Linked DNA regions of Homo sapiens. The protein of the gene in region 1 binds, or shares a complex with, the protein of each later gene. Each region holds a gene or a part of one and is shown on either strand. Other genes may lie near its edges. The genes, in order: ETAA1 and RPA1.

The links.
Region 2: the proteins of ETAA1 (region 1) and RPA1 are in contact, whole or in part, in a crystal structure (PDB 8JZV), measured with the Homo sapiens proteins. Residues at the interface, in NP_061875.2 of Homo sapiens: Thr599, Trp600, Glu601, Ala602, Asp606, Asp607, Leu609, Leu610, Tyr611, Ala613, Cys614, Asp615; in NP_002936.1 of Homo sapiens: Arg31, Ile33, Thr34, Pro39, Arg41, Arg43, Ser54, Ser55, Met57, Asn85, Leu87, Arg91, Arg92, Val93, Ile95.

The regions. Positions count from the first base shown.
Region 1 is NC_000002.12:67,407,257-67,412,781, forward strand, and holds the end of ETAA1 (ewing's tumor-associated antigen 1), read left to right. Parts: intron 1-2,654; coding exon 2,655-2,782; 3' UTR 2,783-4,833; downstream 4,834-5,525. UniProt on the Homo sapiens protein: Replication stress response protein that accumulates at DNA damage sites and promotes replication fork progression and integrity.
Region 2 is NC_000017.11:1,874,961-1,882,228, reverse strand, and holds part of RPA1 (replication protein A 70 kDa DNA-binding subunit), read right to left. Parts: intron 6,569-7,268; coding exon 6,436-6,568; intron 5,018-6,435; coding exon 4,915-5,017; intron 3,237-4,914; coding exon 3,168-3,236; intron 3,015-3,167; coding exon 2,822-3,014; intron 2,670-2,821; coding exon 2,530-2,669; intron 1,687-2,529; coding exon 1,538-1,686; intron 1-1,537. UniProt on the Homo sapiens protein: As part of the heterotrimeric replication protein A complex (RPA/RP-A), binds and stabilizes single-stranded DNA intermediates that form during DNA replication or upon DNA stress.

The DNA.
Region 1 (5,525 bases):
AAAAAAAAAATCACAAAAGAATCTCATAATGTTGTAAAAAAGTTTATGAATTTGTGTTGGGCTGCATTCAAAGCCATCCTGGGCTGCGGGTAGCTTGCGGGCTGCGGGTTGGACAAGCTTGCTTTACATGATAGCCCAAACTAGATATTTTGAAATATTAAAAATTGTTCTCAATCTATAATAATTTTAAGTATTTAAATTTGTATTAAAGTGAGCATATTGTAACTAAATCAAGCATGTTCCTAGCATGACTTTATTTACAGATAGAGTTGACCCTTGAACAGTGTGGGGGTTAGAGGCGCTGATCTGATTTGCAGTCGAAAGTCTGTGTATAACTTTTGATCCCCTAAAAACTTAACTGCTAATAGCCTGCTGTTGACCAGAAACCTTTCCGATAACATAATTAATTAATACATATTTTGTATGCTCTTATATGTATTATATACTGTATTCTTACAATAAGCTGGAAAAGTGTTATTAAGAAAATAAGGAAGAGAAAATAATATTTACTATTCATTAAGTGAAAGTGGATCATCATAAAGGTCTTCATCCTCATGATCTTCATGTCTAGTAGGCCGAGAAGGAAGAAGAGTAGGAGTTGGTCTTGCTGTCTCAGGGGTGTCAGATGCAGAAAACAACCTACAAATGAGTGGACTTGCCAGTTCAAGCCCATGTTGTTCAAGGGTCAACTATAGTTATAATTCTATAAAAGACTAAACCTCCTGGAGTATTTGAGTTTTCCCAAAACTCCTATCTACCAATCTATCTGCATTTTTTATGGATAATCTGCGTTTTAGCTTACCTTATCAATATTTTCTTTAAACTTATTGATAGTACTGAATCTCTTAATTACTATTAACTTTGTTGATGTTTTCTATTGTTTCTACTTCCTTTTACTTTGGTATGTAGCAAGCTGCTCTCCAGGGAAGTATCTCTGAAACAAAACTCACTTAACTCCCACATTTATTTCAGGCAGGAGTTGGCAAACTATGATCTGTCCAAATCCAGCCTGCAGCTTGTTTATGTATAGCCAGCACACTAAAAATGATTTTTACATTTTAAATGGTTGGAAAAAAATTAAAAGGAGAATAATATTTCATGACATTTGAAAATTATATGAAATCCAGATTTCATTGTCCATAAACAGGTTTTATTTGAATACAGCTCATCAGTTATTTATACATTATCCATAACTATTTTTGCTACAGTGGTACAGGTGAGCAGTTGCAACAAGATACTCAAAGGTTAACATTCTTGCTTTCTGACTCTTTCTTTACAGGAAAAAAAAAAATTACTGACCCTTGCACTGTAAGATCAAGATTAAGAAGAGCAGCTTTTGCTTAGTACTTTACAATATTTTAAGACTTCATTGTGTATTTTTATTATAGATTGAGTTAAAGGAAAGACTGATGGGAAAAATGGATGAGTCCCTAAATCAAATTTTCATGGTGTGACCTGATTATCATTTGAAATTATTTTCTATAATATTGCCAAGCAAATTGTAAGACCAACTTTAGGAAGTTATGTTTTCTGCTGTTACAGATTATTAACCTGTTTTCTTTCCACACAGTCAAATTCAGTGTAAAGTCTTTGGATGTGTAGTCTGAGTTTGTTGTGTTTCTCAGCTTTGAGACTAAAAGTATTAGATAATTAGTCAAGCTAATTAGAAAGTATCTTCTGGTGTCTCTCTTTAGGAAAAAATATCTACAGTCTGTTAGGTAAATAGCTTAGGAAATAAAAGCCATCAAAATCATCTGGGAAACTTATTTAAAATATGTATTTCTTAGCCTGAATACCCCCTCCCATTTCTGATTATACCAAGAAAGGAAAGGGAGGCAGATTATATATTTTGAAAATGCCTCTGTTAGTTAACAAGAGAAATGTCTCATAAATTGTGTATCTTTTTCTAAATGTCAGAATAAATGATATACTTAAATATGTATTAGGGTGATAGTCTTAAACTTAAAATATCATTTAAATGAGAAAGTGATTTCTAATACAAAGCCTCAACTTACTAAGTTAATTGAGATTATTTTAAAGTTTCTCCAAAATGCATCCTCCAAATAAAAATATAATTTCTGACAGTGAATCACAGGTAACCAGTTTGACATGACAGATTTCATTTTATCACTCTAAAATATATTTCCTCAGTGGATGAAATGAAAATTTTATAGCTCTATAGGGAAAAGTAGATGTGAATATTAATATAACATCTTATGTAAATATACACTGTTTGAGATTGATAACTAATTTAATTCCTTATATTTTGACTATTTTCCAATTAAAGTTTACATAACATTTTAAATCCCAATGTATCCTTTTTAAAGATATATTTATTCGTGGGTCATATAAATTAGATGTCATTGTCCACAAGAATTATTTGGTGGGTAGTCAGTTTTCTATCAAACTGAATTTTATCACACTGTGAAAAGAATGTATCAAATAGAGACAGATCCATCAGTGCTTGATTTTCTTTTGAACTGGAGCATTATATCTGTATTATGTACTTAGAATTTTATATTCAGTAGTTTAGTTTGATTTAATAGCCAACTAATATGGCAAATCTGGGTGATTAAAAAAAGCAAAAATTAAAGCACATATTGAATGACTTTATAGGCTATAAAAGTAAAACTCATCTTTTGTTGAATTTTTAGAGGAAGAAGAGAAAAATAGAAAGTGTTCTCCTGAAGAAATTCAGAGAAAAAGACAAGAAGCACTGGTTCGGAGAATGGCTAAAGCACGAGCCTCATCTGTAAATGCAGCTCCCACTTCATTTCTTTAATGAAATATTAGTTGGAAGACTTCACGAAGACTGCTGATAACTATCTGTGATTGATAGGAAATTTTTTTTCTTGATTTCTCTGTGAGAAATGTAATGCTGACTTTTATAAAGCCTGGACTTCTACTTTATTTAATAAATCAATGTTTGCAATGGTAAATGAAACATTTCCTTGGACATGTATTTGAAAGTCATTAAATACAAAAGTTTTGGAAATTCAGGAAAGTTAGCAATTATGTACGGATATTATACAGAGGAAAGTAGTTATATTTTTAAATGCTATTATTGCAGAGGATCATCAAAAAAGAGGTAATCTACGTTATTTCCTATTCTAATGTCTTTTCCTAATAAAAAACTTCAACTTTCTAAGTTAGTAGAGACTGTTTTTGTAGTTTTACTTTCATTAACTGTTGCTTAAGGTTTTTATACACTTCCAGATTTTAATTAATACTTTCATATTTCTAGGAACATGGTTGATATGAAATAAAGGACTTTTTATTTGTAAGGAAATTATGTTCAGTTCTTAGAAGTGGATTTGAATTTTAATAATTCTAAAATGTGACACATTTTGGAAACTTTCCACCATATTTAGGAAAACTTTGATTTTAGAAGTCTAACATAGAGGAAAAGAAGTAGTGGATTGTCTACAAAAGTAATGTGGCATCATTAACATTTAGAACTGGCAGAAACTTCATATGTCATCTGGTCCAGCTTCCTTATTGTATCGGTGAGAAAAAGTAATACTGTTTTCAAAGTCATAGGCAAGTTAATGCTGTGCTACAATTAGAATGATTTATTTGGACACCTAAACAATTATACTATTTGTTTCAAAGTATCAGTACATAAAATAACTTGAGGGAGTATTATTTTCTAGTATAAAACAAAAGATGTAATTAAAAGCACAATAAGGACTGTTTGATAATAATGCTCATTGTTCCTTATTTTGCTTTAAAGAATTAGTCTTTCCAGGATATAAAAATGAGAATCTTTTTTCTTTTCAGTTTTTCTGTAACTGTAATTTTCCCCTCAATTAATTTACTTAGTTGACTCATCTTTTCTTCTCTATTACTGTTTTGTTTTTTTCTTTTTTTGCCATTTTGCCTATTTGGAATTTGCTAAACCAGTAATAGAAGTCCAACTAGAGGGCGTAAGGCAGGGAGGATGCTTTATTCCTCTTAAATGGTTTTAGGAGATCTAGAGAAAGTTAGAGATATGAAACACCTGTCATGGTGTGGCATTTATCACTATCAAGTGTCTCAAAGCTGTGATAATATGGTAGTTACTGCCCTATAGCTATACAGATACTCCTCAACTTACCGTGTAGTTACATCCCAATAAACCCATCATGAGTTGAAAATACCTTAAGTTAAAAATGCATTTACTACACTTAATCTACCAGACAACATAGCTTAGCTTAGCCTACCTTAAACATGCTCAAATCACTTATATTAGCCTAGAGTTGGGCACATCATCTGGCAATACGGCACACTGTAGAGTATCAGTTGAGCTGATGCCCAGCATCGTGAGAATGTTGTACCACATATCTCTAGCCTGGGAAAGAATCAAACTTTAAAGTATGGTTTCTATTGGACGCATATCACTTTTGCATCACGTTAGAGTTGAAAAATTGTAAGTCAACCATTTTAAGTTGGAGACTGTACATCAAAAATGGTATTTTCATATCTACAGTGGAGTACTGGAGTTTAGCTAACCTATATTATTTTTCCAGGAATATATAATAACCTAGATAAATGCAAGTAGTTTCTATGTACAAAAATAAAGAGCTGAGAATCTTTTACTAAAAGTGGCTTCACTGTGTTCTGACTATGCTTTGGATATCTCTGTCCTTGCTTAAGCTCCTCCCTGCTTACTGCTTGCTTTTTTAAGAGTACTTTTAGCCTATTCTGTTCATTCATTTAGACTCAGCCTAATAAGTCTGTTTGAACCTCGTACCTAACCATCTTCACTGGAATTGATTGCTTCTCTCTGATCATAATGGTACTAATTATTGTGTCTTTCATTGAGCAATACTATAATGCCTTTATGTGTTGTTTAGTTGTATAAATCTTATTTTATAATTTGTCATTTTGTGTCTCTGGTAATTCTGCCAAATTCTTATACAGCTCATAGTATTATTTACGTAATAGTTTTCTCTAAGTGACTCCCTTTTTTTAAAAAAAAAAAAAAAAAAAAAACTTTTATAGCACTTCTGGGTGGTGGCAGGTGTAATGGCCCTGTACATCTGAACCTCACATGACTGGTTTTTAGGGTCACTGCTCCTGTTCATACCACTCTCCTTTCCTATCCTGACTCTTCCTTTAGCCCTTGTTGGAAACATTAGGGGGTGAATGGCCCATAAATGAGCATGCAGAGGGCTGACTATATAGTTTGCCTGGCTTTTCTCTTTCCTAGTCTATAGGGAATCTGGGGAAGGGACAACTGGTAGCCTGGCAATTTCCCCCTAAAGTTCCGCTGCTGTTTCTGCATCTCAGACTGATGCTAATAATGCCATTATTTCCAAAAAGAGCCTGTTGAAAGCGGAGCTTATCTCTCATTCATCTTTTTCTGTTATAGACAGATGACTCGGACCCCAGGAACATTGGGGTTGCTTACTGCAGACAGTGGTATGCAGACATGTATCCTACCATGGGAAACACTGCCTTATATACTACCCTATTATCACCAGCTTTTAAGTTACCAAGAACAGAGACACCTTACTCATTTCTGTCCACCTGATACTGATAGC
Region 2 (7,268 bases), on another chromosome or scaffold:
GATCACACATCAATTGATATGAAGGAAAAGGGGCCAAGGAGAAAGTGGCTCGGGAACACAGTGGTGGCGGAGAGGAGCTGGCCGGAGATGAAAGGCCAAATACCATCCCAAGGTGGGTAACCACACAAAGAACAGGTTCCTTAAACAGAGACCATCTAACAGAATGGATGTTACCCTGAGCTGCAGACAGCTGCCTTCTCCTGTCAGGTAAGCGGCTAAATCCCTCACAGGGGCACAGCAAGGCCCATCCATCTGTTTCACCACTACTAGCTACACAAGTTCACGGTTTCAAAAGCTCCAAGGAGACATTTGCCACCAAAGATCACTCGTCAGGAGTCAAGGCGGCCCTTCTTACAATAAAAACTCTGCATTGTTATAGCCAAGATCTAAACATCTCTAATCCTTGTCCAGGTATCATGTATGCACTGAGCTTGTCTTTGATCAATGCCAAGTTATTTTATTCTGGGGACAGCCGTGCTTTTTATGTTGACTGGGATCATGATTATTGACAAGTAAAAGATGAAGACATTAATGTGGGAATGCAATTTTAATGTGGGAATGCGATTTTAATGTGGGAATGCAATTAACCTGGAGTCGAACTCCAGAGCCTAAAAGAAAATCAAGCAATAAGAAAAAAGCAAATCTGTGGCTAGTTCTGGTCAGACTATGAACGGGCCCTGCAGTTCGGCAGATACGTGTGGACCGTACTACTCATGAGGATGGCTCAGTGACATGAACATTCCAGAAGATGCTTCATGAAACTGGTCAAACACCAGTGCCATTGGTTTAAATGACTCAAAACAAAGGAGGAGTATGTAAAATGAGCTCATTCTTTAGCTGCTTAAATCCTAAGACACAGCTGGAAACTGACACACTTCCCCCCCATAGACTACAGCTATGGGAATTATTGAAGCTTGGGTGAAAGTGTTTTCCCTGACCACATCAATTCTTGCATCCTGTGTCTCAGTTTGAAGTACTCTTTTAAGACAGAGTTTGAATGTCCTAAAAAGCTAGATACAGTGAGGAGATTTTAACAGGCTCTCCTCATCCCTTGAGTGCTTTGGGAATAACAATCTAATCCTAACAAAAAGCCCATTGTTCTCACCACACTTGATCAGAGTCTAGTGAATACACACTAGAAGATGTGATCGGCACCAAAGACTTGACAGAGAAAGAAAGCATGTGTTCCCCCACGCCACAGAGGCCCAGAGCCTAAACCCTGGAAAGAAAGGCGCCTTCAGCACACCGCTGCTGAAGCCTGGCCGTCCCCTCCTTTGGCAGGATCGAGGTCAGCAGGCAGCACTTACATGCTAATTGCCTCCTCCGACTCTCTAGGTTTGTCCTGGGATTACAGGTTTGTCCGTTTAAGGGCTTTAAAGCCCTCCTCACAGAAGGCATAATGCCTTCAAGAAACACGGAAGCTGCACCACTCAGGGACGAAGGCTTCTGCTTGGCAGAAAGCTCCCATGCTGATTGTAACCAGCTTTTCTCAAAGCCCAGCCTCAAGTAACCCTTTGTTTAGCCCCACAAAACCTACCATCCACGAAGCTTATAGGCCTCTGGGATGTCAGGATTCGCAATGATAGTGCTTGAAGACAGCACGGAGAGGCTCCGTCCACCGAAATCAGAGACTCGGGCTCCTTTGATAGCCAACACGGGCTGTCTAGAACCATCAAATTTATCAGCCTGTAAAAGAAACACCAGACATATACAAGTGTCACTAGCAGGAAGAACACAGAAGATTTTTATAGAAAACAAGGCAAACATTCAATAGTAGAGTGAATGTAATCAGCGTACATGGAATCCATACAAGACAGACCTCACACATGAGAATCTACTCAGAGACACATCAAAACTATCACTGCTTTCCTAGAGTTAGGGGAAAGAGCATTTCCCCGCGTAAAGCTTGAATCACAGCAAATCTCACAGAAGTAAGATAAAGGATTTTAAATACTTACCAGACAGCACAATCCTTCCCATCTACATGGTGAAAGCCCCCAACTCATAGGACAAAACCGCCCCCACGAGGAGCTCCTCCTGTGTGTGCTAACAGCCCCATCCTATAGGACAAGACGCCCCCTCCGCCAACCCCAGGAGCTCCTCCTGTGTGTGCTGAAGGCCCCATCCTATAGGACAAGACCCCTCCCTCCCCCAACCCCAGGAGCTCCTCCTGTGTGTGCTGAAGGCCCCATCCTATAGGAACAGACGCCCCCTCCGCCAGCTCCAGGAGCTCCTCCTGTGTGTGCTGAAGGCCCCATCCTATAGGACAAGACCCCTCCCTCCCTCAACTCCAGGAGCTCCTCCTGTGTGTGCTGAAGGCCCCATCCTATAGGACAAGATGCCCCCTCCGCCAACTCCTGGAGCTCCTCCTGTGTGTGCTGAAGGCCCCATCCTATAGGATAAGACCACTCCCTCCCCCAACTCCAGGAGCTCCTCCTGTGTGTGCTGAAGGCCCCATCCTATAGGACAAGACCACGCCCCAACCCCAGGAGGTCCTGTGCGTGTTGAAGACCCCATCCCAGCACTTACATCTTCCCCCCACAGTGTAGCAGTCACCACCTTCCCGGATGTGTCCATCAAGTAGATATTCCTCTTGGCAACTTCTCTGTTGTTAGACCTCACTGTGATTTTAGTGGCGTCTTCATAGCTCTTGCAGATCCCGATGATGTCTAAAACACATGCACGTGTTAGCAGGAGGTGGTCAAGACTCCCATTCCGACGCCAGCAAATGATGAACGGCAAGCACTGAAGCCTGACACCACCCCGTACACTGCAAAGAAAGCTAGTCATCCCTGCTCTTCCTTCTCATACACGAGCTTACCTACAAGTGAGTCTTTCGACTTGTTCTCGAGGTCATCAATCCCCGTGAAATCAAACTGAACCGTAGGTAAATGATGGTCGTCCTCACAGGGCATGACGGAAGTCTCGTTATTGAAGGTCATCTCGTAGTCATTTTTAACAGCTGTGAACTGCTTGTTAGCAATCTTCAGGGTGCCTTTCGAGAAATAATACACCTGCGAAGGAGGCCAAGCCACAGAACCTGAGACTACCATCAAATCGGACAGAAACCCCTAGTCTGCCACCACACACCCCTCCCCTGGGCCAGCGTCTTTTCATCCGCACTCCACCCCCAGGCGGTGTCAGTTCTAAAGTCAGCACGGCCATACCTTGTTCACTTCAATAAGAGGAAAGAACTTGTCCACTTGCTCATTGAAAGCTGTAGCTCGGATTTCACCCTGCAGAAGCACGTGGGCAGGTTAGGGCTGCGGGATTGAACACAGGCCACCCCAGCACCCAAGTGACACTGGGATAGAACACAGGCCACCCTAGCACCAAAGTGACATCTTGAGAGCAGTGGCCCTTGCACAAACAGGGTCCAGAGAGGGCTACGGACATCCCAGGAACCCGCATTTTACAGTCACACACTGAAGTCACTGGCCCCGCTGAAGAATGAGAATTTCAGCTAGCCGATCCCATAATCATGCTGCATTAGCCTCAACTGAGAAACAGAACAGAACAAAACGGCAATGACGAGTTTAATTTATTCTGACAATAAAAACAAAAAAAGTTGAATACTGAGGGACACGCCCAGAGCCCACGAGGAAGGTGCTGCCACGGGGTGATTCACCGGCTCCCTCCACAGTGCCCTCTCAGTGACAAACCACTTCACATTCGGAGCCATTGCCAAAAATGTCAGAGTAAGTCATGTTTGCAAGTTGCTTGTGATCTGATTTTCACTTTTGCTTTTCTGTCAGCCAAAATTTACAAGTGGACAAGAAATTTTAGCCAACCACCATACATTAGAGCAATAATTTCTAAAAAAAAATTAGGTTCTAATATTGATTCTGCCATCACACAAACATTTTGGGTGTTATATCAACTTCCAAAAAAAACATCTATTTTTTTCTCCCTATTTGGGAGTCTGAACAAACAGGAAATCTGCAGCACTTTGAAAAGAATGCTGAAGTACATTTTAGGAATTATTATTATTTTTGAGATGGAGTCTCACTCTGTCGCCCAGGCTGGAGTGCAGTGGTGCAATCTTGGCTGGCTCCAACCTCCACCTCCTTGGTTCAGGCGATTGATTCTCCTGCCTCAGCCTCCCAAGTAGCTGGGACTACAGGCACCTGCCACCATACCCAGCTAATTTTTGTATTTTTAGTATAAACGGGGTTTCACTATGTTGGCCAGGCTGGTCTCGAACTCCTGACCTCAAGTGATCTGTGCACCCTGGCCTCCCAAAGTGTTGGGATTACAGGCGTGAGCCACCACACCCGGCAATTTCAGGAATTATTAGCAAAACGAATGGACTGATTAACAGCTATCAAGACTGTCGTACTTCCATGGCATAGGAATTTTGTCTCATCGTCATGGTTTTGTTTAGTTTAAATAAAGCAAATAGAGAATCTGCACAGTCAGAACCCATTTCCCACAAAACCACTCCCATATCGAGGTCACAACTGTGTGCCTTCTGCTGTGTCCCAAAGCTCCACGGCGCTCACAAGCAGGCATCACCTCCCAGTGCTTCCAGTACACCTGCCAGCAAATCAGACTGTTTCCAGCTTCTCCTGCCCAGGAGGCTACTTATATATTTAGAAAACTACTTTCTACTGCTACAAACGCTGTCATTTAAGATCAAAGATTTTATTTATGACCTTAACCCTCTACTCCAGACAGCATCAAAAGACTATGACAGAGGGAAAAGCACAATAACAATCATGCTTCTCTCTGGCCTACTATTATTCTTCACCTCATAGGCCCGCAGAGCTGAGCCTTCTGTTTCTCGGCGAGCCCACTGCCCTCCGCAGAGCTGAGCCTTCTGTTTCCCAGCGAGCCCACTGCCCTCCGCAGAGCTGAGCCTTCTGTTTCCCGGCGAGCCCACTGCCCTCACTCCCCAGCATGACAAACACTCACACTTTCGTCAACCAGTTCTAGGGAGAAAAGCTTCCCTTCCCCTCGGGAGTTGCTCCAGGTACGGATCTGACTTTTGTTGGTAACACGAGCACAAATGGTCCACCTACAAACCAAATCGATCATATTAGTGTATGGGGTCTTCCTTGGAAAAGATCAAGTAAGAAATCATCTTCCTACAGCCTTTCTCGTCTTACGCATATTCCGTTTTCCAACCTGTATTTTAATCCAGCTAATTAAAACCCCAAGATGACACATGGGTTTGACAGTTTACAGAATAAGCAAATAGTAAAACATGCAAAGTGATTTAATACTAACTCATTCTCCTGTCAAATAAGTAAATTTATAAACTCTCTCCCTTCTCCAAAAAGCATCACCAAGGCAACCATATCCCCTTAATGAAAGGTTCTAAGCTGGAAAATACAGTAACACCAGCAATTATATTTTGCCACAGTTTTCAATTATGGGAACTGATATAACTGGTGTTACACTTCTGTCTCATTCGTAACACACCCTGAATAGAATACACGATGTTGGTGGACCATCAGGAAGAACACACTGAAGCAGCATGACCTTAGAGAGAAGCATGGAAAAAGGAGGCACAGGGCACATTAGGTACCCCACTTATAATTTCACAGGGAAAAATATCTTTCCTACGTTACAGAGTATTGAAGAATAAATATAAACATATCTGGAAGGATTCTGAAAAAAGAACTCTAATTTTTAACTATTCAAATTACTTTATTTTGTTTATTTATCTTGAGAGACGGAATCTCACTCTGTTACTCAGGCTGGAAGGCAGTGGCACAATCTTGGCTCACTGCAACCTCCGCCTCCTGGGTTCAAGCGATTCTTCTGCCTCAGCCTCCTGAGTAGCGGGGATTACAGGCGTGCTCCACAACACCTGGCTAATTTTTGTATTTTTAGTAGAGACACGGTTTCACCATGTTGGCCAGGCTGGTCTCAAACTCCCGACCTCAGGTGATCCACCCGCCTCAGCCTCCTAAAGTGCGGGGATTACGGGCATGAGCCACCGCGCCCGGCTTCAAATTAATTTTTGGTGGAAAAAAGTCATATAAAAGAAATTTATGTTCAGGGTATGTTCATGTGTTTAATACAAATAGTGCAGATTATTTTAGCCAACTAAACCAAAGACGAAGTCACCTGTTTATAGGAGAAGATTAAATGCCTTTTGAATTATCAGAAATATTTATTTTTACTCATAAGACTATCAACTGATTAAGCATTAAGTATTTTTAATTTCAAATTCTTTCAAAATGAATGAAACCCCACAGGCTATGGCAGATTGCTATTGTTACTATATTTTCCAACAAGAGTTAAAAGTTTGCCACAATTTGTACCCCTTTCCTCCTCAGCAAAAAAAAAAAAAAAAAAGAGTAAACCCATTCTATTTGGTGGTATTTGGTGGTGACCCTGAAGTTCACGCATAAATAACTCAAGAGTCCATAATAGCTTCTCCGATTTCATAAGTACACTCTGAACTTACTCTATGCAACAACTCACTTGGACTGGTAAGGAGTGAGGCTGGCAATGGGCACCACTTTGGACTGTGTTCCCCCAGAAGTGTGTGACAGGCTGGGACCTGCAGCTTTTCCAAATGTCTTTGAAGCACCATAAGCCTTAGAAACAGTAGAACCTTTAAAAACAAACGCAAACGAAAAGGAGTTATTACTATTCTACTTAGCTTTTTTATAGTAAGCTTTACAATAACTCTAAATTTTGGAGGTGCCACTAGTGAAATCATATAACATGAGAGGCAAAGCTTTTCCTTTTTATATGCAAGAGATACGCAGATCAAATAGAGACTGAGGCTGGAGGCTACAAAAGCAATCTAGGATGAAGGCTGCGCACACAGCAGCTCACTGCTATGTTTGCTGATGTCAGCCCCGAGGTCAAAGTAATAATGGTGACGAATCCAGACACTGCTGTTTCTGAAGGCCGCCCTCTTAAACACTTCTCTTGCCTCAACGGGCAAGATAATGGGTGAGAAAAAGAAAATCAACTTTTGTAACTGGTAAAACTGATGGCAAGGCACTAGTCACATGAAGAAAGACAGGATGTAAGGGACCTATCACAAATAGATCGCCTCCAAATCCCCAGACAACTCCCAGATCTCAATGCGTCTGAAGGACTAGCAAGTCTAGAATGAAGTCTGTAAGAATGAGTTTCGTCGGGTGCAAAGGGCAGGAATCAGTTTTTGGTCAAGATATGTTAAGTGGGTGACCACTAAGACCCTTCCGCCTCCTTAATCCAAACCTAAGCAGCTGCCCTGCGCTGGGAAAGAACAGGGAATCAGGTGAGTTCTTTTATACGCACCACGTATCTGCAAAACTCAA